3 linked regions of the Homo sapiens genome follow. The protein of the gene in region 3 interacts with the protein of the main gene of each other region in a pairwise test. Each region holds a gene or a part of one and is shown on either strand. Other genes may lie near its edges.

The links.
Region 1: the proteins of USP49 (region 3) and PTCD2 interact in binary tests that used the Homo sapiens proteins (3 or more experiments, as listed by UniProt).
Region 2: the proteins of USP49 (region 3) and NAMPT interact in binary tests that used the Homo sapiens proteins (3 or more experiments, as listed by UniProt).

The regions. Positions count from the first base shown.
Region 1 is NC_000005.10:72,349,581-72,360,502, reverse strand, and holds part of PTCD2 (pentatricopeptide repeat-containing protein 2, mitochondrial), read right to left. Parts: intron 7,863-10,922; coding exon 7,749-7,862; intron 2,301-7,748; coding exon 2,076-2,300; 3' UTR 1-2,075. UniProt on the Homo sapiens protein: Involved in mitochondrial RNA maturation and mitochondrial respiratory chain function.
Region 2 is NC_000007.14:106,259,286-106,270,207, forward strand, and holds part of NAMPT (nicotinamide phosphoribosyltransferase precursor), read right to left. Parts: intron 10,028-10,922; coding exon 9,869-10,027; intron 9,316-9,868; coding exon 9,179-9,315; intron 5,887-9,178; coding exon of another isoform or gene 5,868-5,886; exon of another isoform or gene 4,381-5,867; intron 4,333-4,380; coding exon 4,107-4,332; intron 2,423-4,106; coding exon 2,303-2,422; intron 1-2,302.
Region 3 is NC_000006.12:41,799,702-41,810,623, reverse strand, and holds part of USP49 (ubiquitin carboxyl-terminal hydrolase 49), read left to right. Parts: intron 1-3,612; 5' UTR 3,613-3,640; coding exon 3,641-4,996; intron 4,997-6,613; coding exon 6,614-6,818; intron 6,819-10,685; coding exon 10,686-10,794; intron 10,795-10,922. UniProt on the Homo sapiens protein: Deubiquitinase that plays a role in several cellular processes including transcriptional regulation, cell cycle progression or innate immunity.

The sequences.
Region 1 (10,922 bases), on a different chromosome or scaffold from region 3:
TAGCTACCTCTGTACTGAGGTTTCTGGGAACAGGTGGAATGGACCAGTTTTTCCAGTCGGCTGGGCAGCAGGGATTGGGAAGCTTGTTGCTATTTACTGCTCACAAAATTTGGTTATTTCGCTAATGAATGGTTGTTAGCTAACAACCAAGGCCACACTCACCCACAGCACTGGAGCCATTTGAACTGTGAGAGTTGGAGAAGATGAAAAGTAAGCTGGGGGGACAGGAAGCATGCCCTATTATTCCCTAAGACTGAAAGTGGAGAAATCCAAGCACTTTTTTTTTTTTTTTTGCATGTGCAAAACACCAGACACATACAGAAACAATTAGGATTCTATGAGGGCAGAGAATTTGTTTCTCTAAATGGGGCTGTTCAATGTTTCACAGAGCACAAGGACAAGAAATTCAATATTTTTGAGCAGAAGGAAGAACTCATTTGTTTTTATAATTCCTTAACTAGTTTCAAACATATTGCATGTACTATGTGCCAGCCACTATCTGCTTGCTTTATATTCCCTATCTCATTTCATCCTCACACCAAGCCTAAGAGGTCGGTACCATTATCCCCATTTACCAAATGAGGAAACTGAGGATGCCCAGGGCCACACAGTAATGGGGGCCCTTAGTATTCTGTTTCTTAAGAGCTGCTCCTTTTTCCCCTCTGAAAAGAGATAATGTGGTACAGTGGGAAGGATACTAGACTAGGAATCTGGATTCTAATCTCAGCTCTACCACAAATCAATTATACCAATGTGCGACTCTCATATGCGGATCCTGTCCTCAGGTGGGATTGTGATCTCAGACCTGGATTCAGCAAACACCTGAAGCTGTGACTCTCTTACTGGGACACAGTCTACAGTTGAGATTGGGCCTCTCTTGCATGGATCGTTTCCTTAACCTGAAAGATGAAGGAATTAATTAGGAGACTCAGAAGACTTCTCCTAGTCTACAATTTCTGACTCTATAATCCTTGCCTTAGAACAACAACCAAGTGAACAGTCTTAGTTTTGGAGGTGGCAATGAAGAGTCTGCAGCAATCTTGGCAGACAGCTCCTGAGGTCTGAGCAACCCTCTGGGCTTTCTGAAACAAAAGGAGCAAGTGAGGTGGGGTCACTGTGTATCTTCTGCTCACTGGTGACCAGACACGGTAAAATTCAACACATACTATATTTGAGACCATAAGTATGAAGCAGCTTTGAACTGCTCTCATGGCACATTTTTTTTTAATATGAGGCATTCAAGAGAGAAAAATCATTAACAAATAAGATAAACTATAGGACTAAATATTTATTATCCACATAGAAACCAAAGCATTATGTGGTTTTTAGTGGCACTTATTTTGAAAAGCACATGGCTTACCCATGAACAAAGCAGTAGTCATTTAAATTTGGCTTACTCAGCAGTCCTAAAGGCTAAATTCTGGTTTTGTTTGTGCTGCTGAGAAAACAAAACAACCACAATCCCAGCAAGTTTCCTTATGAACCTTATTTCTCTTATTTTTGAGAAAATATGATCCTACTAAACCTTGAATGAAGATTTCAAATCTATATGCAAAGACACATAGGCATTATTGTTTTGCAGATGGAAAAATAAGGGCTCAAGTCATAGACATATATGATGGCAGAGCAATGAGAAAATCCTGGGCTGTTTTCTAACATGGTAAAATAGGGTTTCATACCTCCTGAATTCAGCAAGGATGTAATTTGCAAGTAACTACTCCTTTGAAAATCAGAGTTATCCACACTTGTAGTGAAATTCATTCCTGATGGTGCTTACTGGGTTCCACTCTGGTGTCGGAAGCTGAACCGGAGACTGACCAGGTTCCTTCAAGGATCCTCAGCCATGCAAAAGGGAAGCGCCTTTCTGAGGGAGCCAAGCTTGCATCTAGACCTTCACAGTGGTGCAACATAACTTCTCAGAGATCGGCATGGTACCATTCAGTGAATTTGGGAATTTCAGGAGAAGACCAAGTGTCAGCACACTGTCTGCTGAAGTGCGATACCTGGCTTCTTAGGAAAGGTAATAACTCACTAGAAGCAGGCCCCTCAGATCCATAGGTGGACTGAAACCAGGGTTACTCAGCCAACAGGGACTGGCTGAGTGGCTGGAAGGTGCGACGGCTGACCATCCTCTTGTTTAATAGCAACGTGTGAGATTTCCTGTCCCTGGGGGTGTGGCAGAGCACAGCATCCAAAGAATCAGTGGTGACCTGGCCAGTGATGTGCAGTGTCCCATAGATCTCATCAAATTTGGCCACAAGGGCAGGCACATCCTTCACTTTTTCCCTCACTTTGGCCAGCTGGAAAAAAGCAAGAACACATCATTACATCTCTGCAAGATTTCTTCCTTATTCTTACTATAACCCTAAGAAAAAGAAATGGACATGAACAAAAATGTATGGTAGGCCAGGCGAGGTGGCCCATGCTTTAATCTAAGCAATTTTGGACGCTGAGACAGGAGGACTGCTTGAGCACAGGATTTCTAGGCCAGCCTAGGCAACACAGTGAGACTTTGTCTGTAAAAAAATTTTTTTAAAAATTAGTTGGTGTAGTGGGAGGATCACTTAAGCCCAGGAGACAGAGGCTGCAGTGAGCTGTGATCGTGCCACTGTACTCCAGCCTTGGCGACAGAGTGAGTCTTAAAAAAAAAAAAAAGTATGGTATACACCTAAAATCGTGAAAACCAGGGTACTGGGGCACACAGACAGCAGTATTACTATGAGGGATTCCAAAAGCTACACACAAAATTCAAAATTAGTACTTGAAAATCATACCTAATATAAAAAAAGGGGGGTTCAAATAACACATCATATATAATGAAACACACCAAGTAAAGGAGGTCATATACCAGTGGAATCAACTTTGTTCAATGTAATGATTAGAGCAGGAGGAGGCAGGGCCAAATTACATAGGCTTTATATATATTCCACAATAAGTTTTTTGAAATTTATTCTAAAAAAGCCATCAGAGCATCTAAAGTGGGAAATGATCTCATTTCTGTTCAAAAAGTTGCAGAGAATGAACTGGAGTGTACAGAAATGTGGAGACTATTCTGGAGGCCCACACCATAGCCCAGATAAGAAACAATGGTAGTTGAGATTGGGAAAGGTACAGAAAAGAAGGAGAAGTACACTTATGTGAGGTATATTTTGGAGTTTACACTGAAAGGACTTATTTTTGAATGGGTGAAGGAAAGGGAGGTGTCAAAGCTATCTTCTCAATTGGGGCTTTAATAGCTTGATGATGGGTGCTATCATTTCCTGATAGAGAAGACAGGGAGGCGAGATTTGGAAGGGAAAATCAAGAGCTCTGTTTGGACCTGATTGAGACGGCTGTGAACCATCTAAATGGGTATGTCTAGAACGTTGTTGGATATACAAGTCTGGGGCATGAAGGAGAGGTCTGGGCTAGAGGCATACGTAGTAGAGTCACAAGTATATGATGGTATTTAACCCCCAAAATGGGTGAACTAGAATGGAGAATGTGAAGCTGCTTTCTGAATAAAATCAGCATTTTACTTAGTTCAATCCTTATCAAGGGTACAATCTCAACACATTTCTTGATGGAATTTAATTGGGATCAAGCTTCCTAATAAATCCTTTGCCCCTCTTCCACCTCTTCCAAATATATAACACTGTTTGCACCTGCACATCTTCCTTTGAGACAATGGCTCCCAACCATGCCTGCAGACAAGCAGCTTAAGCACTTCTTAATGTTCTTAAAAAAGAATAGCTTGTTTAGTCCTCATGTTCAAGGTGAAAATGACTTAATGTGCAGCATATGGCTTCTAAAAGCAGCAGAGCAAACATGCCAAGCTGGAGGTAATTTTGATCTAAAAACTGTAACAGTTCTGTTACATAACTACAGAAATAAATCAGCAATTATTTTCAATAGTCCTGTGGTGGTATAATAGCACCTATGATAGTTTATAGTCTTATCTCCCTACATAACACTTTTTAAATAACTGCTGGCATAAGCATTAAATGCACTTTGTAAAATGCAGACGTTTACAATATAGGACTCCACTTGCAATCTCACACATATATATTTAGAACTAGCTCAAAAGCTACTGGAGTTATATGAATCAATCCATTTCTCATCAAGCTGTTCCTTGAGTGGTCCCACAGTAACCAGAGGGAAGACACTGAACTAGAGGGTTCATTTTCTAAGTACAAGAGTCTTATATGAGTATTTTTCAATATAAAGTTTGTTCGGGTGCTTTAGCCATATAAATGGGTGACAATGTATTGATGGTTCAGGTCTAAGGAATGGTTGTTAACAACAATGCTGCTGAGAAAATGGAAGTTGGATTTCACATGTACACATACACACGTGACTATGCACTTTAAAATCTGTTCATGCTTCTACTTTCCCTACTTTTCTAAACTTACTCCAAAAGGGTTGGGTGGATCACAGCCTACACAGAGCTAAAACTGCAAATAGAAAGAAGCGTTAAATCAACCATATCCAGTTAGTCATTTTCCTGACAAGCTCCCTTTTATCAGAAGGAAGAAGCCTTTGGGTGGAAGTGAGGAAATGGAACAGGGCTGGGAAGGCGACAGTGTGGCAGGAGGAGGAAGCAGCCACTGCCCTCTAGTGCCAATCCTGCTGTCTCAGCCTTCAGCCTGGACCAAACTATAAAAGAGAGGCAGGAGAAATGAGGGAGGAAGAGAGGACCAACCAACAGGCCACTTGGTTGGTCAAAATGACAATATCAGTATTATTACTAACAATATGATCACTGTCAATAACGTACAATTTCTTTACACTTCTGTTTTTCACCTTAAGTTACATGCTATGAGAGATACACAAATTACTACATCTCAAATGACCTACAAGAATTCCAATTTGTGTACTTAAGCCATCAATGTGACACATGGGTTCATTTGTTTCATTTCACTTTCAATTTTTAGGAACTGTTTTTTCTCTTCATTTTTATTTAACTCTGCTTTACAGTTCTGCAAAGCATTTACATGGTTCCTAAATGAAATACATAAACAAGGTACATTCGGAGAACTCATGTTTCCGTCCCTCACTTTCACTTTCAAAACTTTTATTTCTTAATTTTTTAAAATTAAATTTAAAAAATAATTTGTCAATTACTTTAATTGTCAAATAATAATTGTGTATATTTATAAAGTTCAATGTGATGTTTCAATCTATGTGTATACTGTAGAAAGATTCAGTCAAGCTAACAAAACTATCCATCATCTACCAATGTGTCTTTTTCTGCGGTGAAACATTAAAATATACTTCTTTGGCATTTTTGAAATATGCATAATAATTAACTGTGGTTCCTAAAGACTCAATCAAAAAAACCTTTAGGACTGATAAAGTCAGTAAAGCTGCAGGTTACAAAATTTACATACAAAAACAGCAGTATTTCTATAAAAAAAGATCTGAAAAAGAAATCAACATAACCACTTAAGTTTTGTTTTTTTTATCGTAGTGTTTTTCAAAAACATAAATATATAAAAATAACTATATGGTCCCGCCTTCTTAAGGCATACTACACATACCCATTTGCATCTTACTTTTGTCACTTAAAAACATATTTAAGTGATCCATATAAATGGTAATCCATAGCAGTATATGATGTAGCTGTTCCTCATTTCCTGTCCTTTGTACGAACAGACCCTAATTTGTACAACTAGTTGTCTAGTGATGGAAATTTGGGCTTTTTTCCAGTCTGCTGTTATTAGAAATTGGATTGCAACAAATAGCCTTGTACATACAACTTCTTTATATTTGCCAGTATATTTTTAGAATATACTCCAAGAAGTGGGAGGATTGAGTCAAAGGGTGAAAGTATTTGTAGTGTACCAATCTGTATTCGCTGTAGCAGCATTTCCTCAGATGATAGCGCCCATTTCCTCAGAGCCTCACCAACCAAGTTGGCTGGCAAACTTGCAGATTTCTATTCAAGAGAAATATCATAGGGTAGTTTTATTTAGCATTTTCTTGATATGGGCAAGAGAATCTTTTCGAAAGTTTAAAGGCCATTCACAATTCATTTTTAGTAAATTCTGTCCACATCTCTTACCCATTTTTCTTCAGGGTTGTTGGTTCTTTTCTCAGAATTTTCAAAAAGAGCTTTTTTTTTTTTTTTTTTTTTTTTTTCAGATGGAGTCTCATTCTGTCGCCAGGCTGGAGCGCAGTGGCGCAATCTCGACTCCCTAGTTCAAACGATTCTCGTGCCTCGGCCTCCTGAGTACCTGGGACTACAGGCATGCACCACCACGCCCAGCTAATTTTTATATTTTTAGTAGATACGGGGTTACATTTTGGCCAGGATGGTCTCGATCTCCTGACCTCATGATCCGCCTGCCTCAGCCTCCCAAAGTGCTGGGATTATAGGCATGAGCCACCGCACCTGGCCTCAAAAAGAGCTCTTGAAATATTAGGGCTAGTTAGCCTTTTGTCAGTATGATTAAAAATTGATTACTTACCTCTTGACTTTGCTTGTAGACTTTTTGCCACATGAAAAAACAGGTTTTAACATTTTTATTTAGTCAAATTTATCACTTCTTTTACTGATTTGGATTTTGACTGAAAGCTAAGTTTTTCCACTCCCAGGATATTAAAGAATCTACTAATGTTTATATCTAGTACTTGTGTATTTCAATTTAAAAATTTAAATTCTCATCCATTTGAAATGTATCCTGGTTTGTGGTATAAGAATATATACAACTGTATCTTTTTCTATTGGCTCTCTACTTATCCTAGTACTACTTCTTACTAGTCTATCCACTTAGATTGATTTGAGATGCTTGTCTCTATGTTACACTAAATTTGTATCTGCAATTTGGTCTGTATCCGGACTTTCTATTCTGTCCCATTAGCTGCCCTATTCATGTCCTAAGCCACAGTTTGAATTATAGAAACTTTAACATGCTTTGATATCTGCTAGACCTAGCAACTCTTACTGCCCCTCTTTCACAGGGTTTTTCTAGCTAGTCTTGTTTGTTCTTTCAACTAACCTTTACAGAAAAAACAAAGTGATATTTTTATTGGAGTCATATTACATTATCACAGTAACTTGAAAAAAACTGAGTTTTTATGAGGCTAGGTCTTCTTATCTAAACATATGGTCTGTCTTTTCATTTGTACAGAAGATTCTTTTTATTTTTTAAGATGAGAGATACTATATCCTACTGTTTGCTGACAAGAATGACCCACAGGGAAGGGGATACTGATGATAGCCAAAAGAGTGAGTCAACTTCTGGACTGATGCTGTGGAGTGGGTCAGAGAGGATGGGATCCAGTGCATGACTGAAGAGGCTGGTGTGAGAGATGTATCCAGTCATCATGGGTATATAGGGCAAGGGGCCAGAGGCTCTCTATGTAGCAGTCATGCTTTTCTGATTACTTCTATTTTCTCCAAGAAACAAGAAATACAGTGATCAACTGAGAGTGAAAAGTGAGGAGAAGGTATTGAAGGCTTGAGGGAAAAGGAAAAAGGTGTAAAATCGTCATCTAGAAGAAAAAGAGAGCCAGGGCCCATGAATACAATGTGGAGAAAAGAATAAGGTAAAAGGGAAAAGTTTCCTAGAATTTCAGAGGATATATTCTGTTGGAAGAAAAAAAAATCTTTGCACATATACATGGAAGTCTTAAAACAGGAACAACAGAGAAGCTGCCATATTTGGCAATTTCTTTAAGGTAAGCTTTAGAATTGAGAAATTAGTGGACATTTTTAAGAGTGTCCTTTCACTTTTAAATGATTTCTGCAGCACTTGCATACTCACCACTTCCTCCGAGAACACATGTCTTTTCACAAATTTTGATAAATTTCCTTCTGCAGCATTTTTTAGAGTCTTTATCAGGTTTTCCAACATATTTGACTGGATATGGATTATAATCTGAATATTAAGAAGACACAAGCAAAACCAAGACTGAGTGAGTGTCTCAATGCTGAGAAATGTACCTGGTTAGATAAGCCTTCATTTATAGGCACCTACCCTGCTTTGATCCTACTTCCTAATTTATTTGCTTACACAAGTTCAAAAACGTGCTTTAAATGTACACTTACGAGCCAAAATGTGCTTTCCAATAGTTAATCAAAAACTACAACTTTGCCTGTAATCCCAGCACTTTGGGAGGCCAAGGTGGGCAGATCACGAGGTCAAGAGATAGAGACCATTCTGGCCAACATGGTGAAACCCCATCTCTACTAAAAATACAAAAATTAGCCGAGAGTGGTGACATGAACCTGTAATCCCAGCTACTTGGGAGGCTGAGGCAGGAGAATCACTTGAACCTGAGAGGCGGAGGTTGCAGTGAGACGAGATTGCGGCACTGCACTGCAGCCTGGCAACAGAGCAAGACTCCATCTCAAAAAAATAAAATAAAATACTACAACTTCAAAACTTGTTTACGGGTAACACTGGAGAGGGCAGAGATTTTGGTGTCTGGATACTCGGGCTGAAATCTAGACACTGGCAAGTACCAGCTAAGTGACTCTGGACTGGTACTTAATCTTTCAATTTAAATGCCCTCATTTGTAAAATGGGGAAAATAGATTTAGATCTCACATTTTGGGTTTTATGAACATTAAATAAAATACCAGTATACAGAAGATACTCAATGAACAAAAATACTGGTTTCCTCCTTTCTACATCCTCTAGATTCAGAGGATATGACAATCAATCTCATAAGACTAGTGATATGGTTTGGCTTTGTGTCCCCACCCAAATTTCATCTCGAATGATAATCTCCAGTGTCGGGGGAGGGACATGGTGGGAGGTGATTGGATCATGGGGGCAGTTTCCCCCATGCTGTTCTCATGATAGTCAGTGTGTTCTCATGAAAACTGATGGTTTTATAAGTGGCAGTTGCCCCTGCTCTCTCCCTTTCCTGCTGCCTTGTGAAGAAGACACTTGCTTCTCCTTCGCCTTCCCCCATGACTGTATTTCCTGAGGCCTCCCCAGCCATGTGATACTGTGAGTCAATTAAACTTCTTTCCTTTATAAATTACCCAATCTCTGGCAATTCTTTATAGCAGTGTGAAAATGGATAACAGTAACTGGCTAGGGGCAAATGGTACCTTCAGCGTTTTCTGTTTTTAGGAAGTTGCAGGCACACAGGTTACTGCAGGCACAGAGTGGAAGCTGGCTGGAATGTTAATGAGGCACTCCTATTTACGCTATCTATTAATGAACTTTCAAAACTGGGTACTGTAGTGTGCTTTCGGAATGATACTACCACCTATCTTCCACCAACTTGTGCACAACTATCTTGTGCAACTAACACAAGAAAAAAGAACACATCTCCCCCCAATTACCAATATTTACTAGTATAATTCAAGAAGAAGTTTAAAGAAAGTGAGAATAACTGAGAACTCACCAACCAATGTTACAACCACTGTTTATAATTTGATGTATAAATCTTCCAAATATATTAACTTATCCCCAAAATTTGATTCTACTTTTGGTCAATTACTACACAACAGACATTTATTTCCTCATAGCATTAATATTAGAAAAAAGAAACCTCATTTTTAACACATACATAGCAATTCATCACGGAAATATACCATACTTTATTATACTGAACAATGTGCACATATGTACTTTTAAAAACTGGTAATGTCTTAGACTTGATTCCCAGAAGTAAAATTACCAAGTCAAAGCATAGAGACATTTTTAAGGCTCTTGATCCTTACAAAGATAGTTTTCCTGGAAGAGATTTACCTTTTTTATATTAAACCAGCTATGTTTTCTTACCAGTCTACTTGGCAACATTTTGCATTTGTTGAGTAACTTATCAGGATGAGGGGTTGTCTTTGGTTCGGAAGAACAGAATGAAATGATCCCAGGTAAACTAAATACAAAGAACCCAATTTAAATTCAGTGTTCTAAAGCCCAGGCAAAATCACGAGCACACCCTTTTTGGGAGACAACTTTCCATGCGTCTCTCAAATTTCTGCATGCCTTGAGAGCAAAAGCACTGACTGCTTTTATTCCAGACTATCTTTTCAAGGATGTTTGTGGACAACAAACACAGTGTTGCATCCAAAGCAAAGGACAGGCATGCTTACTGGCCATTATAAGAGATTTGGGTTTCCTAAGCTTAGGGTTCCTCTCTTGAAAGCAACTTCCTATGTGTGCAAGAGGCACATAGAGCTTTTCATGTCTCCCCACAGGAACTGGGGCTCAGGAAACTGATGCAAAGATGCTAATATTCTGGCTACTGCTACATAATAAATTGTCCTTTATTTCTCTGTGTCTTGTATACTCCACTAGCATCCGTGAAACTGGGGCAGGCTAACTCATTAGCTTACAAGTGGGATAAAATCTCTGACTCTTCACAGTTCTTAACACCTTTGTTAATAAAAACCATCCCAGTTTGGTTGATGGTGGTGTCCTCTCAAAGGCAAAGACAAGTCTACCTTGTTCAATGCAGTGCTATGTAGTACAAGGCAACTGGCCAGCCCTCGATAACAATAAACAAGAAGAGGAGCTTGGTTCCCCCAGCAATTTACAAAAATAAACCATCTAGAGCCCTCTGCTAGAAATGATGTGCTCCCTGGGAGATTTCAATATTTATTCCTAAGTTTTCCCAACTTCTCTTCCTCCCTCCAGCAACTATTTCTGAATCAGCAGGGATTTCAAAAATAAGGCTCATTACCTTAAAATACACTGATGAAGGGCAATGCACATAAGGCAGTCACCGATAAAAGGCAAAGAGAAAGTTTAAAGCTAGGGGCTTATCTCAAACCAGTCTCAGGGTTCAGCTAAAGAAAATGAAAGTAGGGTACAGCACATTGCCTTAATCTTACAGATTTCCAACAAAAGACTAGGGAAACTCAGTTGGTAAGGAACAGGGGAAATTTTGGTAAGAAAAACTATTTAAAGAACACATGCTTCCTGCCTCTTTGATTTTCTGAGGCATCAGGAAATACGTTACTAGATACCTTTGAA
Region 2 (10,922 bases), on a different chromosome or scaffold from region 3:
CAAGACTCAGTTATCTGTGAAGGTTGGAATCAATTTCTTCCAAACTCCTGTTAATGCTGACATTTTAACGTCCTCCCATGAAGCATGATGTTCTTAAATGGCATCTAGAATGGTGAACCCTTTCAGCTACAGACTTAAGAATATATTTCTTCTTTTTTTTGAGACGGAGTTTCACTCTGTTGCCCAGGCTGGAGTGCAGTGGCGTGATCTTGGCACACTACAGCCTCTGCCTCCCTTCAAGCAATTCTCCTGCCTCAGCCTCCTGAGTAGCTGGGACTACAGGCATGCATTGCCCCACCCAGCTAATTTTTGTATTTTTAGTAGAGACGGGGTTTCACCACGTTGGCCAGGATGATCTTGATCTCCTGATTGCGTGATCTGCCTGTCTCGGTCTCCCAAAGTGTGGGATTACAGGCGTGAGCCACCACACCCGGCCAAGAATATATTTCCTAAATAATAGCATCTGAAATTACTCTTTGATGGATAGGCTGTCGAACGGACGTTGTGTTAGCAGGCATGAAAAACAACATTAACCTCTTTGTACATCTCCATCAGATCTCAGATGCCATCTGCAATGATATTTCGAAACAATCTTTTTTTTTTTTTTTTTTCCTGAGCAGTCGGTCCCAACAGTGGGCTTAAAATACTCAGTACACTATGATGTAAACAGACATGCTGTCATCCAGGCTTTGTTGTTCCATTTATAAAGCACAGGCAGAGTAGATTCAGCAAATTCTAAGGGTCCTAGGATTATCAGAATGATAAATGAGCACTAGCTTCCACTTAAAAGTGACCAGCTGCATTATCCACTAATGAGAGTTAGCATGTCCTTTCAAAGCAGATGTTGTCTTCTCTCTAGTTATGAAAGTCCTAGACGGCACCTTCTTCCAATGGAAGGCTGTTTCCTCTACACTGACAATCTGTTTAGTCACCTGCATCAATGATCTTAGCTAGATCTTCTGGGTAACTTGCAGCAGCTTCTACATCAGCACTTGCTGCTTCATTCTGCACTCATGGAGATGGCTTCTTTCCCTAAACCACAGGAACCAACCTCTGCTAGCTTCCAATTTTTCTTCTGCAGCTTCATCACCTCTCTTAGGCTTCACAGAATTGAAACGAGGGCCTTGCTCTGGATTAGGCTTTAGCCTAAGGAAATGTTGTGGTTGCTTTGATCTTCTATTCAGACCATTCAAACTTTCTCCCTAGCAGCAATAAAGCTGTTTCACTTTCTTATTCATATGCTTAGTGGAGTAGCACTTTGATTTTTCTTCAAGAACTTTTCCTTTGCATTCACAACTTGGCCTACTGTTTGCCTTAAGAGGCCTATTTTAGCTTTCAGCATGCCTTCCTCACTAAACTTAATCATGTCTAGGTTTTGATTTAAAATGAGAGGGATGTGACTTTTCCATTCACTTGAATACTCAGAGGCCACTGTGGGGTTATTAATTGACCTAATTTAAATACTGTTGTGTCTCAGGGCATAGGGAAACTTGAAGTGAGCAGAGAAAGGGAATGGGTAACTGGTGAAGGAGTCACAACACACACAGTATTTATCAATTAAGTTCACTGCCTTATCTGGGTGTGCCCTGTGGTGCCCTAAAACAATCACAGTAGTAACATCGAAGATCACTAATCACAGATCACCATAACAGATATAATGACAAAGTCTGAAATATTGTGAGAATTTACCAGTATGTGTCACACAGACATGAAGTGAATACATGTTGGAAAAATAGCACCAACAGACTTGCTCAACACAGGGTGGCCACAACCTTCAATTTGTAAAAAAATGCAATGTTTGCAAAGCACAATAAAATGAGGTACGCCTGCATAACACTTATACTATCTGGCTAAATCTAATACTGATGACAGTCAATGCTTAATTTAGAAGAGGTGGCAGCTATTCTATAATTTCTGAAAAAGCACCCATTAATATTATGAGTTTTACAGATTTGTGAAGCTCCAGTCTATGAAAACTCAGACCTATGCCAGCAGAGTCAAGGCTTTGTTTTATATTCCAAGGAATATTTCTTGACTGACATTTCCTTGTTTCACAATGATACTTCTTTAGATTCATCATTCAGGGTGGCCAATGACAACTGGAAGAGTAAGTATGGCTTGGCTGGCACCTCTGTATTTTAAACTACTATTATTTCTAAACTTTAAGCAATGCACAGAGATTTATACCAACATAAACACTTACAAAGACTTAAAATTGTATTTATATTGTGTTCTTTATCAAACATAAACAAACTTAATTATAAGAAATGCCTTATTGAAACTTTTAATATAAAACACATACCTCTTGTAAGGTATTAATATCTACTCCATCCCCTTGAATAACTCTAAGATAAGGTGGCAGCAACTTGTAACCCTTTGAGTTCTCAGTAACAGGAAACTTCTTACCTAAAATCTCCAAAACCTATATGGAAAAATACACATGCAACACAAATAACTAAAGCTGAAAACAAGTATAAGAGCTTTTCAAAGTTAAATGATTTTGCTTTGATAATCGAGAATATAAAAATTAACTACTTTAAAAATTTTATAACACTATGTATATGCTCTCTAAAATTTGGTCCAGTGTACTTTAAAGGGTTAAAGTACATTAAAAACAAGCATGTTATTTCCTATGAAGTGAATTCACATCATAAAGTGGCTCAAAACAAGTTTTTCCCCTTAGACCTTTCAAATTATATGGATTCAAGGAAAAAAAAATCCTTAATATTAAATAAGTATATTTTAAAGAAGTATATAAAGCATTATTTAACAAACTCATGATTATACTTTTAATTTGGACTTATTCTGCTTGTGCCCAATGACTTTGGTTTTTGTCTGATATATAACTCCAATATGAATCCAGTTCAATCACAAAGTTCAGAGAAACTGTGAAAGGCAGACACAGCATCTAGAACCCATAGTCTCTAAGTTCTCCTTTGCTCTTAAAGCCAAACTGCACAATACACAAATCATCTTACTCATTCACTAACTACTAAAAGTTTTGTACACCAAATTAAAATTTCTCAGAAAGCTTGGTCATATAAACAAAAGAAATACATTCTCTTCCCACAACAATCATTTCTTTTTCCTAAATAAACTGATTAAAGATTCTAACAAAGAGAAAATTCCCCATTGATGAAATCAGTTTCTCATAACTAGCTGTGTACATTTTTTATTACGTAACAGTAAAAACATGAAACCTATCAAGTTTGCTAAAACCAAATATTGCAGGCTAAGACAAGACTTTCAGATTGGCCTATCATTTAATAGAATAAGAAAAGACCTCCTTAATTCTGTTTCCCTTTCTTAAGGGGTAAGTATCATCTGCTCATTAACTGACAAATGGTGTGGTCAAGTAGCAAGGCTGCAGCCAAAAGACCTACACTGGATATCTGACTCCTTATCTTTCATGTTGTGTGACCTTGAGCAAGTTACTTTAACCTTTTTAAGCCTCTGTTTTTTTCTTCTATAACAGAGACAGTAATATTTATCACTGTTTTTTTTTGTAGAGATTAAATGGCGTATCTTATGTAAATCACCTAAAATATTTTTCTAGTAGTAGGCATCAAATAAGCCTGCTATTACTACTTTTTGAAGAAGATAAACCAAGTCCTTGAACATTAACAACAAAAAGTAACACTGCTACATTATGAATCAACAGTATTTCTAAAGAACCTCCACTTGAAGAGTATTTTTGAATTATTTTTATTCCACATCACCCTGTTCCTATTTCTTCTGTGCTAACAACTTCAAAGGTCTAGCAGTGACTTATGCTGAAAAAGAAACAAACTGCAAATAAGTTTGGTGCCCAAATCATAGGATTAATTAAAATGGCAATGCTGTTAATTAATTTTGCAGGTAAGCAGAAAACAAAATATCTATTCAAATGTCTAATTGACAGTAAAACAATCCATAAGTCTTGGTATCCTTCTGTGCTATTACTGTGTGACCTCAGGCAAATCTATTACTCTCTCTGGGCTGCAACTCTAAAATAAAGGGGACTGGTCCACACAGCTCTGAAATTGTGTGTATATAAATGAAAAGTAGTATTGATGCAGCTGGCCTACAGAGGGATTCTAATAATAAAGTTACATATGAAAATTTACCTTTAACACAGTGTCAAGAGGGTTTCCAGAATCAGGTCTGATTATTAGTGGTGCCTGTGTACTTCTTGATACTATTAAATGTCTTAGATCTTCACCCCATATTTTCTCACACGCATTATAAATGTCATAGCTATCGCTGACCACAGATACAGGCACTGATGAAAACTGTGTTACAATATGTTCAAAAGCATCTTTTTCATGGTCTTTCCCCCAAGCTGTTATGGTACTAGAAAAAAAAATGAAAACACAGATTTACTTAGGCAGACACTTGATCTATCCCTGAATCACCTTTAATCATATCTCATGTTTACTATACCAAACCATCAACATCACAGAGAAGGTGAGTGACTTAGTTTAATGAATATACATCGTAAGGCAAATGAAGTAGCTGGGTCAACCATACCTTACCCAATTAGTTTTTAACGCTTTAAGTAGCCTTACTCCTCTTCAATGGTTAAGTTTCTAACCTCGTATTTTCAACCAATTATCTGTGTGTGTGTGTGTTTTCTGGTATTCCTGAATCTACTCATTTAAAATCAGTCTAACTAAAAAGCACTTGCTGAGTGCCCTTTATACTGTATGTCAAGATGTTAGAATGAATACATATTTCCATTATTTTGTTAGGCAATGAGAGCACCTGGCTCCCTTCTGTGAATTTTTGAAACTATATACCAATAATAGTACAGACATACATTTTGTTTTTTTACCTTTCAAAATCTTATACTTAGAGGCAATTATTTATACTATACCATACATACATATAGTCAACTACCTGTTATATTTTCAAGTGGCTAGTAATAGGAAGTCATGTATTTTGTTTGCAGATTATCTACTACGAATTAATATATGCCCAGGGAATAAGAATTCAAATACTTAGTTTAAGCAAAACATAATTAAGATGGAAAATAAAGTATGAGAGTTTCTATTGGATAAGAATGGTTATAGTGATTTTTGCAATGTCCTTAATATCAGTTCTTACGGGATAGATTTGTATTCAATATGTAATTATAGATTGGGTATCGCTTATTTGAAATGCTTGGGACCAGAAGTATTCTGAATTTCAAATTTTTTCAGATTTTGGAATATGTGCATTATACTTATCAGTTAAGCATCCCCAGTTCTGAAATCTGAAATCCAGTTCTGAAATCTGAAATGCTCCAATGAGCATTTCCTTTGAGCAAAAAGTTTCAGATTTTGGAGCATTTTGGATTTGGGATGCTCAACCTGTGTAAATATTTGTTAATATATAATGTAAATAATTTTAAAAGATCTCAAACAACTTAATTTTGAAAATTACCATTTAATTATGCCAAGCAATTGGTCATTCTCCCTAATTTTCTAGTCCGCCTCTAATCTGTTCTCCTCAGTAAATAATAAAAAGATAGCACATTCATTTATTATAAAGCCCAAGTAGGTATAAGTTTAACTCATAACTGTTTGAAGAGTCAGACTTTATGTCTGAAATAATCACTTTATACAATGTGTGTGTGTGTTTTTTTTTTTAAAGGACTAGACTTAGAACCTTTCCCCATACTGTCAATGGTATACCTGGGGTAGTGCAGCATGCACATTTCAAGATTGTAAAGACTACTACCCGAATCCAAAATTGAGAGAGAACCTGTTTATATAAAACTCATTAGTGAACACTCTTCTTAACAGCTACAGAGGCTGCCAGTAGCTATGATGTCAATTCTCTACTTCATGCATCTGTAGGCTAAATGGAAAATTAAGATATGACTGAAGAGAAGCTCCTCTTCATATTCAGGTCTGCAACTTTTCTCTTTAAAAAGGAGAGAATTAAGATCAATGAATACCAATACTGGAGAACTTTACAACGTATGAATTAACTCCTACAGTTAAGGGGTCACTACTTATAACGTTGTATCAGTAAGTCACCTAACGATCTACTTGTATCATGTCTAGCAAACTTCACTGTCCCCATCTTACTTGCTTTCTCCATGACACCTGAATTTTCCTGATGCTTTCTTTCTCTTGACTTCAATGACATCTCCCATGTTTCACCTTTTTTCCCCTATTTCTATGGTTCCCTTTTCAGTCTTCCCAGATGCTGTGCTCTCCTTCTTTAATCTAACCTGTCAGATGGCAATATTTCTCATAGTTCTGACTTAGGCACTTGTCTTCTGTAACATACCTTGTGTGAAACACTCAAAAGCTTAAAAAAAAAAAAAAAAAAAAAGTCCCTGCATGAGGGTTTCCAGTATCTGTATCTTAGCCTCTGTTTTTCTTCCAGGCTCTGGATCTACTTTGTTAGATAGAAAGTTGAATATCTTCATCTCAGCATCCCACAGATACTTGCTCTGGCACTCTCTGTCTAGTCCAATCATAACCTCTATTCTTCTAGTACAGTATGTGATATATGAAGATCATAAATAATCAATGAATTCTACCAATGCCATAAATCCTAATTTCAAGCACCAAATTAAATTTGATACCTTTCCAAAGTTTGAGAAAAAAAGCTTCTGTAATTAAATATTTTTAGGTGCAGATTCATCTATTAAGATACATACAATAGTGGTAAACCTCTAAATTTATAGAGTTCTCTTATTTTAAAGTTATTTAGATAGTAGCTCATTTATCATCAATGACCTTGTCATGTTGGAGATGTAAAACTTTAGCTCCTCCTTTTGTTTGGTTGGATGGAAGAAATGAAGAACAGAGAGATAAGTGACTTGCCCAAGGCCACCCACTATGTCAGCCGGAAGGTCACCCAGGTTTCCCAACTTTCAGTCCAATCCTCTTTTTGCTATACTACGCTGTTGTTTAAAAGACATTCTATTAAGAACATGTGAGGCATTTGAATATATAAGGAGTCAAATTTTACAAATGCAATCAATATGAGACCATAAAAATAAAATGGATTTTTATCCCTTGCCCACATACAGTATCCTTTTCATTTTAACAAGTCCTAAAGAAGATATTATCCTTGTCCTCCGTATCATGATGTTACTACTTTGAAATAACCATCAACGAAGAGTCTAATATGTGCATACTATGTTAGATTTTTAAAAGATGTATGTACATCTAAGGCCAAACTAAAAATAACTCTTAAAACTTTGTTAAAGACACTCTTATTTTCCCAGTTTCCTAGTCTTGAAAGTTGTATGTAAAAGTGTTCAACAAGGCCTTACTAATACAATGCTCATAAACGTCAGCTGAATCTATTTTCTACTGAGTCCCAACTCAAATTACCAACTTTGAGCAATTTTATCTCCCAAGCCATTGCTCATGTTTACCTATTTCTTTCCATTTATTTAGCACCTTGGTCTGGACTTCATTACCTTAAGACTGCTGGAATAGCTTCCTATAAAGACTACCTTCTGATTTTTCCTTTTTTCAATCCATAGGATAGATATCCTGCTATAAAAATATAAAAAAGTCCCCTAAGATATTTATCTCATAACATCACGTCTTTGCTCAAAAATGTCAGTGCCTGCTTCCATTTGAAAATGCCTGATTTAGAATAGCTAGCATGATGTGCACATAGTTAACATTCAGTGTCAAAATATGAGCGCCCTTACTAACCTGAACCTGTCTTCTCAGTCTCCCCTACGCTCCCTACAAAATCTGTGTTTCAGCCCTTATTCTCTAAACATTCTCCCTCCTCTTTCATTCTTGTGCTTTCATCACAATGCTTGATACAAGATAAGCATGCAATAAATATTTACTCAGAGAATGAATAAGTGCCCAATGTTGGCTATTAAATTTTACCAATCCTTCAAGAAGTGAAGATTTTGTATATTTCTATAAAAGCTTTCTTGATCCTGCTAGTGAAGGAATATGATTCTTCCTCTCCTTCCCTTGCAACACTACAGCATTTTAATTGTACCTCCTTACGAGGAGTTAACCAACAGAGCAGACTATTACTAGTGTATTATTTTCATCCTGAGAATAGGGTCAGTTTTTTAAAAATATCCTTCTAACCCTTGTTGCACCCAGTAGACTGCCTTGCATATGAACACCAGTCAACTAATATGCCTCAAATAGTAGCAACAATAAAGCTTAGCTTGATTCTAAACTCACTGCTGGTTTTAGCACTCTGCAATTTTAAGTATTAGCAGAACTTAAATATTCCCTAATGATTATAGTAAATAATTTTGTTATAAAAGTCAGTGATAAGGTTTGGCAAACATTTAAAAAACCTGATTTACGCCGGGCGCGGTGGCTCACGCCTGTAATCCCAGCACTTTGGGAGGCCGAGGCAGGCGGATCACGAGGTCAGGAGATCGAGACCATCCTGACTAAAACGGTGAAACCCCGTCTCTACTAAAAATACAAAAAATTAGCCGGGCGTAGTGGCGGGCGCCTGTAGTCCCAGCTACTTGGGAGGCTGAGGCAGGAGAATGGCGTGAACCTGGGAGGCGGAGCTTGCAGTGAGCCGAGATCCCGCCACTGCACTCCAGCCTGGGCGACAGAGCGAGACTCCGTCTCAAAAAAAAAAAAAAAAAAAAAAAAAAAAAAAAAAAACAACCTGATTTACTTTTAATAAAGTTAGCTCTAGGACCAGAGCAGCTGCAGTTTAGATTGTAATTTCTTTCTTGGGTAACTGGAGATAGTTTACTGAAAGCAGACAAGGAAGCGTAAAAAGAATCTGAACACCCTTTCTTTCCTCAACAGGTCCTGCTTTCTCATCTACAACTGAAGGTACAGTACAGATGACAATTTCTAGGGCAAATATAGATAAGGTCATGTAGGAGGACAGGGAAAAGGCAAAAAGTGGCTGGTACTTACAGTGAGTGCTTCTAAATTTAATGAATAAAATCTACCTACATATGACAATACAGTAATTGAAAAAAAATTCCTTAAAAGAAAACTTCTATGGCAATATAAGTATTGGAAAAAAGCTCTTAAACTGTTTCTTCTAGCATGGATAAAATTTCTCTGCCTCTCTAAGACTAATGTTTATACTTTTGTATAAATACTGAATTTGTGTTGCTCAAGTTCATGAAGATGTACTGTAGGTACCTGGCTCTGCAGTTAGGTAAAATGTCACTGAGTTACAAATACAAGAGTGAAAAAATTAGTAGTTTTAAAAAATGAACAGAATTTTTTACCTGTGTTCTGCTGCTGGAACAGAATAGCCTGGAACAGGATCTTTCGTTCCATAATATTTTTTAATTAGAGCAAGTCCTGCTACTGTATCTGTTCCTTTGAAGTTAACCAAGTGAGCAGATGCTCCTATGCCAGCAGTCTGGAAAATCAATCATAAACCAAAATCCAAAACAGAAAGAAACCCACATTAATAATACCAGGATGCAGCCAACCACATTTAAGGAATATAGCATAGCTCCCATAAGAATTGTCTTTCTCTTAGGAAAGTATTTATTGTCAGACATAACAGTTCCTAATGACAAAGATTCAGTTTTTCCTAAATATTTTAAAAAATCAACTATTATCTCCTCAAAGAGACCTATTTAACAGTGTCCCACCCCCACTTTTCATCACTCTCTCTTCCCTTACCCTGCCTTGAGCTTCTTTATGGCATTATTTCACATCTGATATATTATGTCTGTTTCTGGCTATCCATCTGTCCATCCATCTAATATATAAAGGACAGGGACATCTGTTGAAGGACATATCCCATGTACCCTGAACACAGTAGTAGGTACTGAATATGTATCTGTTGGTTGAATCTTTGGAATTTTAGAACCAAGATCAATCTCAATAACGTCCCCAAAAGTTTACAGTGGTACTCTAACCAACAATCCACATTATATTAAATGAGGTTGGTTTCAGTTACTTACCTCTTGGGAAGAGACTCCTCTGTAGCCAAAATCATGTAACTTGTATTCCAGACCATCTAAGTTACCAGAAGTTTCTAACAAATATTTGGCCAATATTTTCTTCTGCTCTCTAGAATTTGTGGCCACTGTGATTGGATACCAGGACTGAACAAGAATAGTCTGTAGTAACAAAATTAACCACAAATATTAAGACATAAAATACTGCATTCTTTCTGAGGAAAATCCTAGCTTTTTTTTTTTTTTGGAGGTATGTCCTGAACTTCCATACTATTAACTAGACACAGAACTGCGCAGCAGGATGCCTGCTGTGTGCATTCCAGATATAGTACATAGCTCAGCTCTCAAATCAGCAACAAAGAAGATAAGCACACCAGGTCCACATAGCAGAGAACTTCACATTATCAAGTTTCTATCCAAAGCTTCAAAGAAGCAAATAATATTTTGAAAGACTATGTGATAAAAGGATCAATTTTTAGAAAGTTTCATGATCTGTCATGGATCAATAGTTTATAAAGGACACTGAAACTTGGATGTTGAGGCAATGTCAAATTGCCCCAAGTTTCTAAATGCTTACTCTTCATTTCTGTACTTAATGTGGACTTGGATCAAATAGGGCATGAACCAGCATTGGTCCGTGGACTGCATTTTGACTAGTATTGGTTTAAAGAAGTTGTTCGTTTACTCCTCGAGGTAGTCTCAGATCTAATTTTCTCTTGGATTAATATGACAACTAATACTTGAAGCACTTTAGCTTACTACTAGAGAATTCTATCTACTGAGTTATGCTTTATGTACTTAGCTTTTATCAAATATATAAGTATTTGATAAAATACTCACGTAAGTTACAGGAAACACTTCCGCATATGTTGTATAATCAAGGTCACTGTCTACTTTGTAATTCAGTGACTATTAAGTTCCCAATGAGAAAATGAAAGAATTGCTGGGTTCCTACTTTCTGATAAGAACAGTTCCTTGATTTCCCCTTTTTTCTTGGTTGTCAGGAAGCTCCACAGAAAAGTCTGTCTAATCACAGCAACCGTAATAATTATCATGG
Region 3 (10,922 bases):
ACTGAGCCAAGATCATGCCAGTGCACTCCAGCCTGGGCAACAGAGTGAGGCTCTGTCTCAAAAAAAAAAAAAAGAGGAACTATCTTTAGGGAATTGAATTATTTATTTATTTTTTATTTATTTTTTATTTTTTGGAGACGAAGTCTCGCTCTTGTCCCCCAGGCTGGAGTGCGATGGCACAATCTTGGCTCACTGCAACTTCCACCTCCAGGTTCAAGCAATTCTTCTGCCTCAGCTTCCCGAATAGCTGGGATTACAGGCGCCTGCCACCACACCTGGCTAATTTTTTTTGTGTTTTTTTTTTTAGTAGAGACGGGGTTTCACCATGTTGGCTAGGCTGGTCTCGAACTCCTGACCTCAGGTGATCCGCCTGCCTCGGTCTCCCAAAATGTTGGGATTACAGGCGTGAGCCACTGCACCCGGCCTATTTTATTATTTTCTTTATTTTTTTATTTTTATTTATTTATTTTTTGAGACGGAGTCTTGCTCTGTCGCCCAGGCTGAAGTGCAGTGGCGCGATCTCGGCTCACTGCAAGCTCCGCCTCCCGGGTTCGCGCCATTCCCCTGCCTCAGCCTCCGGAGCAGCTGGGACTAAAGGCACCCGCCACCGCGCCCGGCTAATTTTTTGTATTTTTTAGTAGAGACAGGGTTTCACCGTGTTAGCCAGGATGGTCTCGATCCTCTGACCTCGTGATCTGCCCTCCTCGGCCTCCCAAAATGCTGGGATTACAGGCGTGAGCCACCGCGCCCGGCCTATTTTCTTTATTTTTTAATTTTTATTTATCTATTTATTTTTTGAGACGGAGTCTCGCTCTGTCACCCAGGCTGGAGTGCCGTGGCGCAATCTCGGCTCACTGCAAGTTCCACCTCCCGGGTTCACGCCATTCTCCTGCCTCAGCCTCCTGAGTAGGTTGGGACCACAGGCGCCCACCACCACGCCTGGCTAATTTTTTGTATTTTTAGTAGAGTTGGGGTTTCACCGCGTTAGGCAGGATGGTCTCGATCTCCTGACCTTGTGATCCTCCCGCCTCGGACTCCCAAAGTGCTAGGATTACAGGTGTGAGCCACCGTACCCGGCCTATTTTATTATTTTCTTTTTGAGACGGAGTCTTGCTCTGTCCTCCAGGCTGGAATGCAATGGCGCGATCTTGGCTCACTGCAACCTCCACCTCCTAGGTTCTAGCGATTCGCCTGCCTCAGCCTCCTGAGTAGCTGGGATTACAGGCGCCTGCCACCACGTCTGGCTAATTTTTTTATTTTTTTAGTAGAGATGGGGTTTCACCATGTTGGTCAGTCTGGTCTCGAGCTCCTGACCTTAGGTGATCCACCTGCCTCGGCCTCCCAAAGTATTGGGATTACAGGCATGAGCCACCGCACCTGGCCTTTTTTTTTTTTTTAATTTTAAAGAGACTAGGCCAGGTGTGGTGGCTCACACCTATAATCCTAACACTTTGGGAGGCCAAGGCAGGAGGATCACTGTGCCCAGAAGTTTAAGACCAGCCTGGGCAACATAGTGAGATCCCCATATCTACAAAAAATAAAATTAGCTGGGCATAGTGGCATGCACCTATGATCTCATCTACTCTAGAGGCTGAGGTGGGAGGATCACTTGAACCCAGGAAGTGGTGGCTGCAGTGAGCCAAGATCACACCACCGCACTCCAGGCTGGGTGACAGAGAGACCCTCTCTCAAAATATATAAATATATAAGTAAATAGATAGATAGATTAGATAGGACAGGTCTATGTTGGCTAGGCTGGTCTTGAACTCCTGACCTCAATCCTTCCACCTCAGCCTCCCGAAGTGTGCAAGCCACGGTGCCCAGCCTAAGGAATTTTAAGTTCTGGTATTGAGGGGAAAACGCCTTTCAAAGTTCCAAAGATATAAAAGTTTTCTTTTAAAATAGTTGTATAGCAGCCTGGCGTGTTGGCTCACACCTATAATCGCAGCACTTTGGGAGGCTGAGGTGGGCGGATCACGAGGTCAAGAGATCGGGACCATCCTGGTCAACATGGTGAAACCCTGTCTCTACTAAAAATACAAAAAAATTAGCTGGGCGTGGTGGCGCACGCCTTTAGTCCCAGCTACTCGGGAGGCTGAGGCAGGAGAATCGCTTGAACCCGGGAGGTGGAGGTTGCAGTGAGCTGAGACCACGCCACTGTACTCCAGCCTGGTGACAGAGCGAGACTCCATCTCAAAAAAAAAAAAAAAAAAAAAGTTGTATAGCTTCTTTCCCTTGGAGAAATTGCCCACAAGGCTTCTCTGATTATTGAATTGAAGAAGCATTATTGGGAGGGGGAAAAAAAAACATGCTTAGGATGTTCTACTGTTTTAAAAAGCATTTTCATATATATCAGCTGGAAGATTCGTTGCTTTTTTTTCTTTTGTTTCGGTAGTTTGGTTAAATATTATACCAGTAGCCACTTCACCTCTTGTCCTAAGTCAGATTTGTCCAGTTCTTTACTTACCTTTCCTTTCAGTAAAGAAGGTAAAAGTTTTCCCACCCTTACTGCAAGATGCAGATGTTCTTTTCAAAAAGACGGATGTTGGCTGGGCGCAGTGGCTCGTGCCTGTATTCCCAGCACTTTAGGAGGCTGAGGCGGGCAGATCATTTAGGTCAGTAGTTCGAGACCAGCCTGGCCAACATGGTTAAATCTCGTCTCTACTAAAAATACAAAAAAATTAGCCGGGTGTGGTGGTGCGCGCACCTGTAATCCCAGCTTCCTGGGAGGCTGAGGCAGGAGAATCGCTTGAACCAGGGAGGCAGAAGTTGCAGTGAGCTGAGACTGCACCACTACACTCCATCCTGGGTGACAGAGGGAGGCTCGACCTCAAAAAAAAAAATACATAAAAAACAAAAAATAAATTAAAAAACACATATACGGCTGTGCACGGTGGCTCATGCCTGTATTCCCAGCACTTTGGAATGCCGAGGTGGGCAGATCACCTGAGGTCAGGAGTTCGAGACCAACCTGGCCAACATGTTGAAACCCCGTCTCTACTAAAAATACAAAAATTAGCCGGGTGTGGTGGCGTGGCGTCAGTAATCCCAGATACTCGGGAGGCTGAAGTGGGAGAATCGCTTGAGCCCGGGAGGTGGAGGTTGCAATGAGCTGATATCCCGCCACTGCACTCCAGCCTGGGCGACAGAGTGACCCCGTCTCAAAACAAAACCACATATACAATGTTCCTTAGTCACGTCTCATAAAAATGATACTTTGTACTGGTGAGGACTTTCTTTCTCTTATTTCTATCTTATATCATGTTATCTCTGCTTTGAAAAACATTGCAATCGACCTAAAATTGACTTTTTATTTGAGTTTCTTCATCTCTCCCACTGGTATGTGAAACACCATAAAGTTTCAAATTTGTGCTAACCCTTCCGTAAGAGTCTTCCTTTTTAAGTAATTTAACTGTCCTGTAACTCTCTGCCTTTATACCAAATGTGCCTTTTTTTAACTTTCAAAGGAACCAATTTGGAGTTGAAAATGAATGAATCTAGAGTTGAAATATCAATTGCAAGCCTTTTACTTTTTTTTTTTTTTTTAAGGAAAATATTTTTCTAAAAGTGTTTTCTTTTTCTTTTTCTTTTTTGGGGACTCTGTCGTGCCAGGTTGAGAAAGTGGCGACTTCTATAAGACATGGATAGATGCAAACATGTAGGGCGGTTACGGCTCGCCCAGGACCACTCCATCCTGAACCCTCAGAAGTGGTGCTGCTTAGAGTGTGCCACCACCGAGTCCGTGTGGGCCTGCCTCAAGTGCTCCCACGTGGCCTGCGGCCGCTATATTGAGGACCACGCCCTGAAACACTTTGAGGAGACGGGACACCCGCTAGCCATGGAAGTCCGGGATCTCTACGTGTTCTGTTACCTGTGCAAGGACTACGTGCTCAATGATAACCCAGAGGGGGACCTGAAGCTGCTAAGAAGCTCCCTCCTGGCGGTCCGGGGCCAGAAACAGGACACGCCGGTGAGACGTGGGCGGACGCTGCGGTCCATGGCTTCGGGTGAGGACGTGGTCCTGCCGCAGCGCGCTCCTCAGGGACAGCCGCAGATGCTCACGGCTCTGTGGTACCGGCGTCAGCGCCTGCTGGCCAGGACGCTGCGGCTGTGGTTCGAGAAGAGCTCCCGGGGCCAGGCGAAGCTGGAGCAGCGGCGGCAGGAGGAGGCCCTGGAGCGCAAGAAGGAGGAGGCGCGGAGGCGGCGGCGCGAGGTGAAACGGCGGCTGCTGGAGGAGCTGGCCAGCACCCCTCCGCGCAAGAGTGCACGGCTGCTCCTGCACACGCCCCGCGACGCGGGCCCGGCTGCCTCGCGCCCCGCCGCCCTCCCTACCTCACGCAGAGTGCCCGCCGCCACACTCAAGCTGCGTCGCCAGCCGGCCATGGCCCCAGGCGTCACGGGCCTGCGCAACCTGGGCAACACCTGCTACATGAACTCCATCCTCCAGGTGCTCAGCCACCTCCAGAAGTTCCGAGAATGTTTCCTCAACCTTGACCCTTCCAAAACGGAACATCTGTTTCCCAAAGCCACCAACGGGAAGACTCAGCTTTCTGGCAAGCCAACCAACAGCTCGGCCACGGAGCTGTCCTTGAGAAATGACAGGGCCGAGGCATGCGAGCGGGAGGGCTTCTGCTGGAACGGCAGGGCCTCCATTAGTCGGAGTCTGGAGCTCATCCAGAACAAGGAGCCGAGTTCAAAGCACATTTCCCTCTGCCGTGAACTGCACACCCTCTTCCGAGTCATGTGGTCCGGGAAGTGGGCCCTAGTGTCGCCCTTCGCCATGCTCCACTCAGTGTGGAGCCTGATCCCTGCCTTCCGCGGCTACGACCAACAGGACGCGCAGGAATTTCTCTGCGAGCTGCTGCACAAGGTGCAGCAGGAACTCGAGTCTGAGGGCACCACACGCCGGATCCTCATCCCCTTCTCCCAGAGGAAGCTCACCAAACAGGTCTTAAAGGTGGTGAATACCATATTTCATGGGCAGCTGCTCAGTCAGGTATGTGTGTGCCTACCATGACAATGAGAGGCTTGTATGTTAGCTTGGGCTTCCTGTGAGTGCCTTCCCCGGGTTATTGGGCTAATAAGAGTAGCCCACATTTGCTGTGATTATGCAATTTGGAGGGTGGCCATTATACCTTTCATTCTGCTGTACATTATGATGGCCTTTTGGGGAAACTTGCCTAGTGTCTTTCCGGCCAGATTTTTAGTTTAACTTGCCACATCGCTTAATTTTCAGTGAATATCTTTAATTGTTATTGAAGATAGGGGTAATATAATATTCTCATTGTTATAATTAAGTACCCATTGTTGGTGTGCCATCCTTTGATCAATTTGAGGGAACAGAGTTTGCTTGTAACCCTGGTTCCATAATAGTTTGAAAGAGCAATCTCCCTTCTTTACATACAGGGAAGGTAGGTAGCTGGGAGCATGCTAAAGGCCAGTGCAAGCCTCCTTCCTGTTCCCCATTACCTTTTATTTCCTGCATCTTTAGCCATGTAACCTAAGCAAAAATGCTTAGACAGGGCCTTGCGAGAATATGCAGAAAGAGTATTTCTATAGTTAAAAAAAGGCAGGTGTGCCGGGCACGGTGGCTCATGCCTGTAATCCCAGCACTTCAGGAGGCCAAGGTGGGTGGATCACCTGAGGTCAGGAGTTAGAGACCAGCCTGGCCAACATGGTGAAACCCTGTCTCTACTAAAAATACAAAATTAGCCGGGCGTGGTGGCGCATGCCTGTAATCCCAGCTACTTGGGAGGCTGAGGCAGGAGAATTGCTTAAGCCCAGGAGGCGGAGGTTGCGGTGAGCCGAGATTGTGCCATTGGCACTACAGCCTGGGTGACAGATGGAGACTGTCTCAAAAAAAACCAAAAAACAAACAAAAAAACGTGGTGGGGGGTGGGTTGGTGAGCAACTTAAGAGTTTCAGGTAAAACCTCTACACTATGTGTCTTGGTTTTTAGGGCTTTGAAAGAATGATGAATGGGATGGAAAGGGAAAGTTTAATTAGGCTTTTGTTTTTGAGCATGTAAAAGGGGGAGTATTTATCAGCACTTCTTCTGTCTCCCCTCCCCTTAGGAAGAAAGGTGCACCTGGGAAGGTTATAGTGGGAATGGAGGTCTAATCACAGCACTTTGAGGCTCTGCAGACAGAGGGGTTCAGTGTAGGGCTTCTGCAAGTAACAAAGGCAAAAAGAGAGGCATGCTGGGCCCCATGGAAGGTCTGAAGTCAAGAGGAGGAATGCCAGGGTGAGGGAAGCAGGCAGGGACCTGCAAATCTGTGTCAGACTGATCCCTTGAGTGACTGCATGATAACTTGCAGTCTGTACTACTGTACTATTGAATGGTAGAGCATATTTTGGGAGAGGTGAAAAGGGGGGTTAGTATAGTCTCTATGCAGTATGGTTTTTAAATTCCAGCTAGCATCCCATAGTTAGAAATGTACATCAGAAATAATATACTCTAATTCTTTTAAAGTTATGTTTATTATTTTAATATTACTATTTTTTGAAAATTATACACTTAGTTTTGATAAAGTGTGTCTTTTATGAAGCAAGTAAAACTGTACACAGGAAGCATGGAAGTTATATAATCTGTAAATCAATCTTTTCATTCTAGGTCACATGTATATCATGCAATTACAAATCCAATACCATTGAGCCCTTTTGGGACCTATCCCTGGAATTCCCTGAACGCTATCACTGCATAGAAAAGGGGTTTGTCCCTTTGAATCAAACAGAGTGCTTGCTCACTGAGATGCTGGCCAAATTCACAGAGACAGAGGCCCTGGAAGGGAGAATCTACGCTTGTGACCAGTGTAACAGTGAGTGCTGTGTGGAGGAGGGGGCGTAGTGGGGAAGAATAATTGGAATATCAGTTTAAGGTGCTGCTTTGTCCTCTTTAGTCAAAAGTAACACTAATGATATTGAATGGTTCTAAAGCATCTTTTAAAGATCTTTTTCTCCCATTTTTCTAAAAACAAAAAACATGGACTTGTTTTAATTATGTATTAAAAAACAAAACAAGGCTGGGCGTTGTGGCTCACGCCTGTAATCCCAGCATTTTGGGAGGCCAAGGCGGACAGATCACTTGAGGTCAGGAGTTTGAGACCAGCCTGACCAACATGGTGAAACCCTGTCTCTACTAAAAATACAAAAATTAGCTGGGCATAGTGGCAGATGCCTGTAATCCCAGCTACTCGGGAGGCTGAGGCAGGAGAATCGGTTGAACCCAGGAAGCGGAGGGTGCAGTGAGCCAAGATTGCGCCATTGCACTCCAGCCTGGGCAACAGAGCAAGACTCCGTTTCAAACAACAACAACAACAACAACAAATGAAACAAAGACCTAGGAGTTGATTGACCTCCTGATTGACATTAGTTGTCATCTTGGAAGGGATTTTAAAGTTGTGGCTCCTGAAATGGGGACTCTGAGAATGTTAGTACTTAGCTTCTTAGTGCTGTGGGGCTGCTGCTTAAATTCATGAATGTAGAGTCTGACAGTTCTTACTTAATCTAAACCCAGATGGTATAGCCTTTCTGAAGGGTGCGATATCAGAAAAGCAAGCTTTTGTACTGAACTGGTAGACTTAATGTCTGTCAAAAGTGATGCTAAAGATTGGTACAGTGGAACCAAGAAAGCAAGTCTTAAGGTGCATTGCTCAGTGGCAGCTTCATGAAATATTTTCTGCATTTTGTTTTTATTGTTCACATGCCTGAAAAGTTCACATTTCAGAGAGGGTCATACGGAAGTATTTCTGTGTTGTCTGTAATTTTAAAATGGAACTCTTACATATGGTTACAGAGGCATGTTATCAGGGTCCTTCCATCTTGCCACACTAACACTTAATGCTTCTGCTAATCCAGTATGGACAGAGGAAATGCAGAACAAATATGTGGATGCTTATGTTTGGGGTTTGTGGCATATATAGATTTGGAAACTAAAAGTATAAAGTTAATGGACTGTGCAGAGACCTAGAAATCAATTTTCAGTCACATAATAGTTTAGATTACCAGTTTTGAAGAAAAAAAAAATCTTAGGCCAGGTGCAGTGGCTCACGCCTGTAATCCCAGGACTTTGGGAGACCCCAAGGTGGGCGCCACTGCACTCCAGCCTGGGTGACAGAGCGAGATGCTGTCTCAAAAAAAAAAAATAAATAAAAAATAAATAAATAAATAAATAAATAAATAAATAAATAAATAAAATAAAATAAAATAAAATAAAAAATAAAATAAAATAAAATAAAATAAATTGTGGGAAACCTGTTCCGCTCTTTGAAGAATCAGAACAAAAATCAAAAGTCAGGCTTGAGGCCAGGTGTAGTGGCTCATACCTGTAATCCCAACACTTTGGGAGGCCAAGGCAGGAGGATTGCCTGAAGCCAGGAGTTTGAGACCAGCCTGGTGGCATAGCAAGACCTCTTTTAGGGAAAATAAAAACAAAAACAAAAACCACAAAGTTATGCTCGATATCATTTTGCCATTTCAAAACAAAATTTGAAATTTTATACCTGGTTAACTATAGACTCACCTATCCTGTTCCATTTTGAGATACAGAGTCAGGTGAATCAAATTGTTTCATTAGAGTAATATTTAAAAAAAAAAAAACAGTGATTCCTGAAGCCTTTTACTTGTAAGGAACAAAAGAATATTAACAGCTTTAACTCCATCATTTTTGGATATGATAGATTAGGCAAGAAATAACTTTTGTTTATCTTTACAAGAAAGGATTGTTCTTTGGTTGTCAGATATGCCAATTTATCAGGATTTCTCTAGGCAAGTACAAATAATGGCAGAGAAGGAAACCTATGGTGAGGGGATGAGATGCATTGATCTGTTGCCTGTGAAGTTTCAAAACTGTCAGTCTTCTACCTGTCTTCCTGGCCAGCTTAATGAAATGGAGACAGAACTGATCAATCTCAGTTGAATCAGTAATTTCTTTTTCTTTGTGAATTTCATTTTAGGGAAACAAAGCCTGACTCTATATTGTCTTCATCTTAGCTCACATACTCCCTCTGCTGAAGGTGGCAGTCACTGCCAGGATTCCTAGCCAGAGCTGCAGTAATTTTCAAAAAAATGGTGAATAGGAATATAAAATAAGGCCAAGCCCCTCTGTGAATTCCATTTCTGTTCATGCCCCCACGTATTGTGACGACTACACCCTGGTAAAAGCTTCTCCTATGGCACACTCATTCTGATGCAGTCTATTATGAGAAGTTACACCTCCACATCCTATTGTCACAGAAAGCTCTGTGATACATCATCTGGCTGTGATTTGCTACCTTTCATGAGTAGTACAGACAGGACTTGGAATCAGATGCCCAGCTGCTCTTCAAACACTGAGCCCATGATATCAACAGCTCAAGACAATTAACAGGGACTGCAGTAGACCACTAATTTTCTACTCTCATCCATTTACCAATTTAATATAACAAAACAGTCATCAGTAAATGGTTACAGGAAAGGCTTCTGATAGAAACTAAGAGAACTCTATTTCCATTATTTATTTGCTGAAATTTAGAAATGCATTTCCTCAAGGCTGGGCACAGTGGGCTCACACCCATAATCCCAACACTTTGGGAGGCCAAGGTGGGAGGACTGCTTGAAGCCAGGACTTCGAGAAATGCATTTCCCCCACAGTTAGAAACAAAATTAGAGACTGATCACTGGTTCTGCTTTGGAGTAGATGAATTTAGCCTACCTGTCAGCTTTGTCCTTGCATGTCCAGCAATGTGCTTTTATCTAGGAAATATGTTTCAAAAACTACGCACAGCATAAAAATATAAAACAGTTTATTTTCTAAATGTTTGAATATGCCATAAGCAAATCATGCTAAAGAAAAAAATGTGTTTAAATACTCTATCATTTAGTAATCTTATCCTTTTTTTCCTAAGCCTGAAAGATATGCATTATTTCCTATTTTACTGGTGAGGAAACTGAGGTTCAGAGTTTTGAATAACTTATCCATTAGCACACAACTAGTTGTGAGCAGGAAGTAGAATTAGGCTTACCTAGTGCAAACAAAAAGCTTTTTAAAATCATATTGTGGGGTATCATAATTGAAGTTATAAGCCATTGTGAAGACATGGAACCTTAACATATGCTTCTACTCTATGTGCTTGCTGCTGCACGTTCCATTATATTCCATTATACGCAAAGTTGCTGATGGCAAAAATTGGAAAGATTTGAGTTGCTTGTAACAGTCGACCCAAATAACAATGACTTAAAATGAGAGATTTTATTGTTCTGTTACATAAAACAAGTCTGAAGGACATTCAGGGCCAGCATGGTGGCTGCATGGTCATCAGTGACCCAAGCTATTTCTGTTTTCTGTTTTACTATCCCATTGCAAGACTTCTGTCTTCAAAGTTACCTTTTGGTCCAGGAGGAATTCCAGCAGTTTCAGATAGTGGGAAGGCCAAAGGGATGTGCCTTACAACTGAGTCAGCCCTGTCTAAGCAGAGTCCCACACAGTCATTCCTTTCATCTTAGCCAGAACTTCCATGGCCACACCATGCAGGCGTGTGAAGCTGGGAAATGCAGTCATAAAGAGTGTCACATTGCGCCCCCCAAAAAATTGAGGTTCAGATACTGAGAAATATGGAGAATGCATATTGAATGGCAAGTCACTGTCTCTGCCATAGCTAGAAAAAACTCCTCACAACCTATGTCTTATACCTTCCCAAACCACATAGGCAAACGACGAAAATCCAATCCCAAACCCCTTGTTCTGAGTGAAGCTAGAAAGCAGTTAATGATCTACAGACTACCTCAGGTTCTCCGGCTGCACCTTAAAAGATTCAGGTGAGCTTGCTGTGGGAGTCCCAGCTGGGTGAGAGCTGTGGGAATAGCTGCTCCAAAGGCTTTGGTGAGGGCAAATGTCTTCTATGGTGTTGGGAGGGGAAGCCTGTTCACTTGAGACCTCGTGTTTT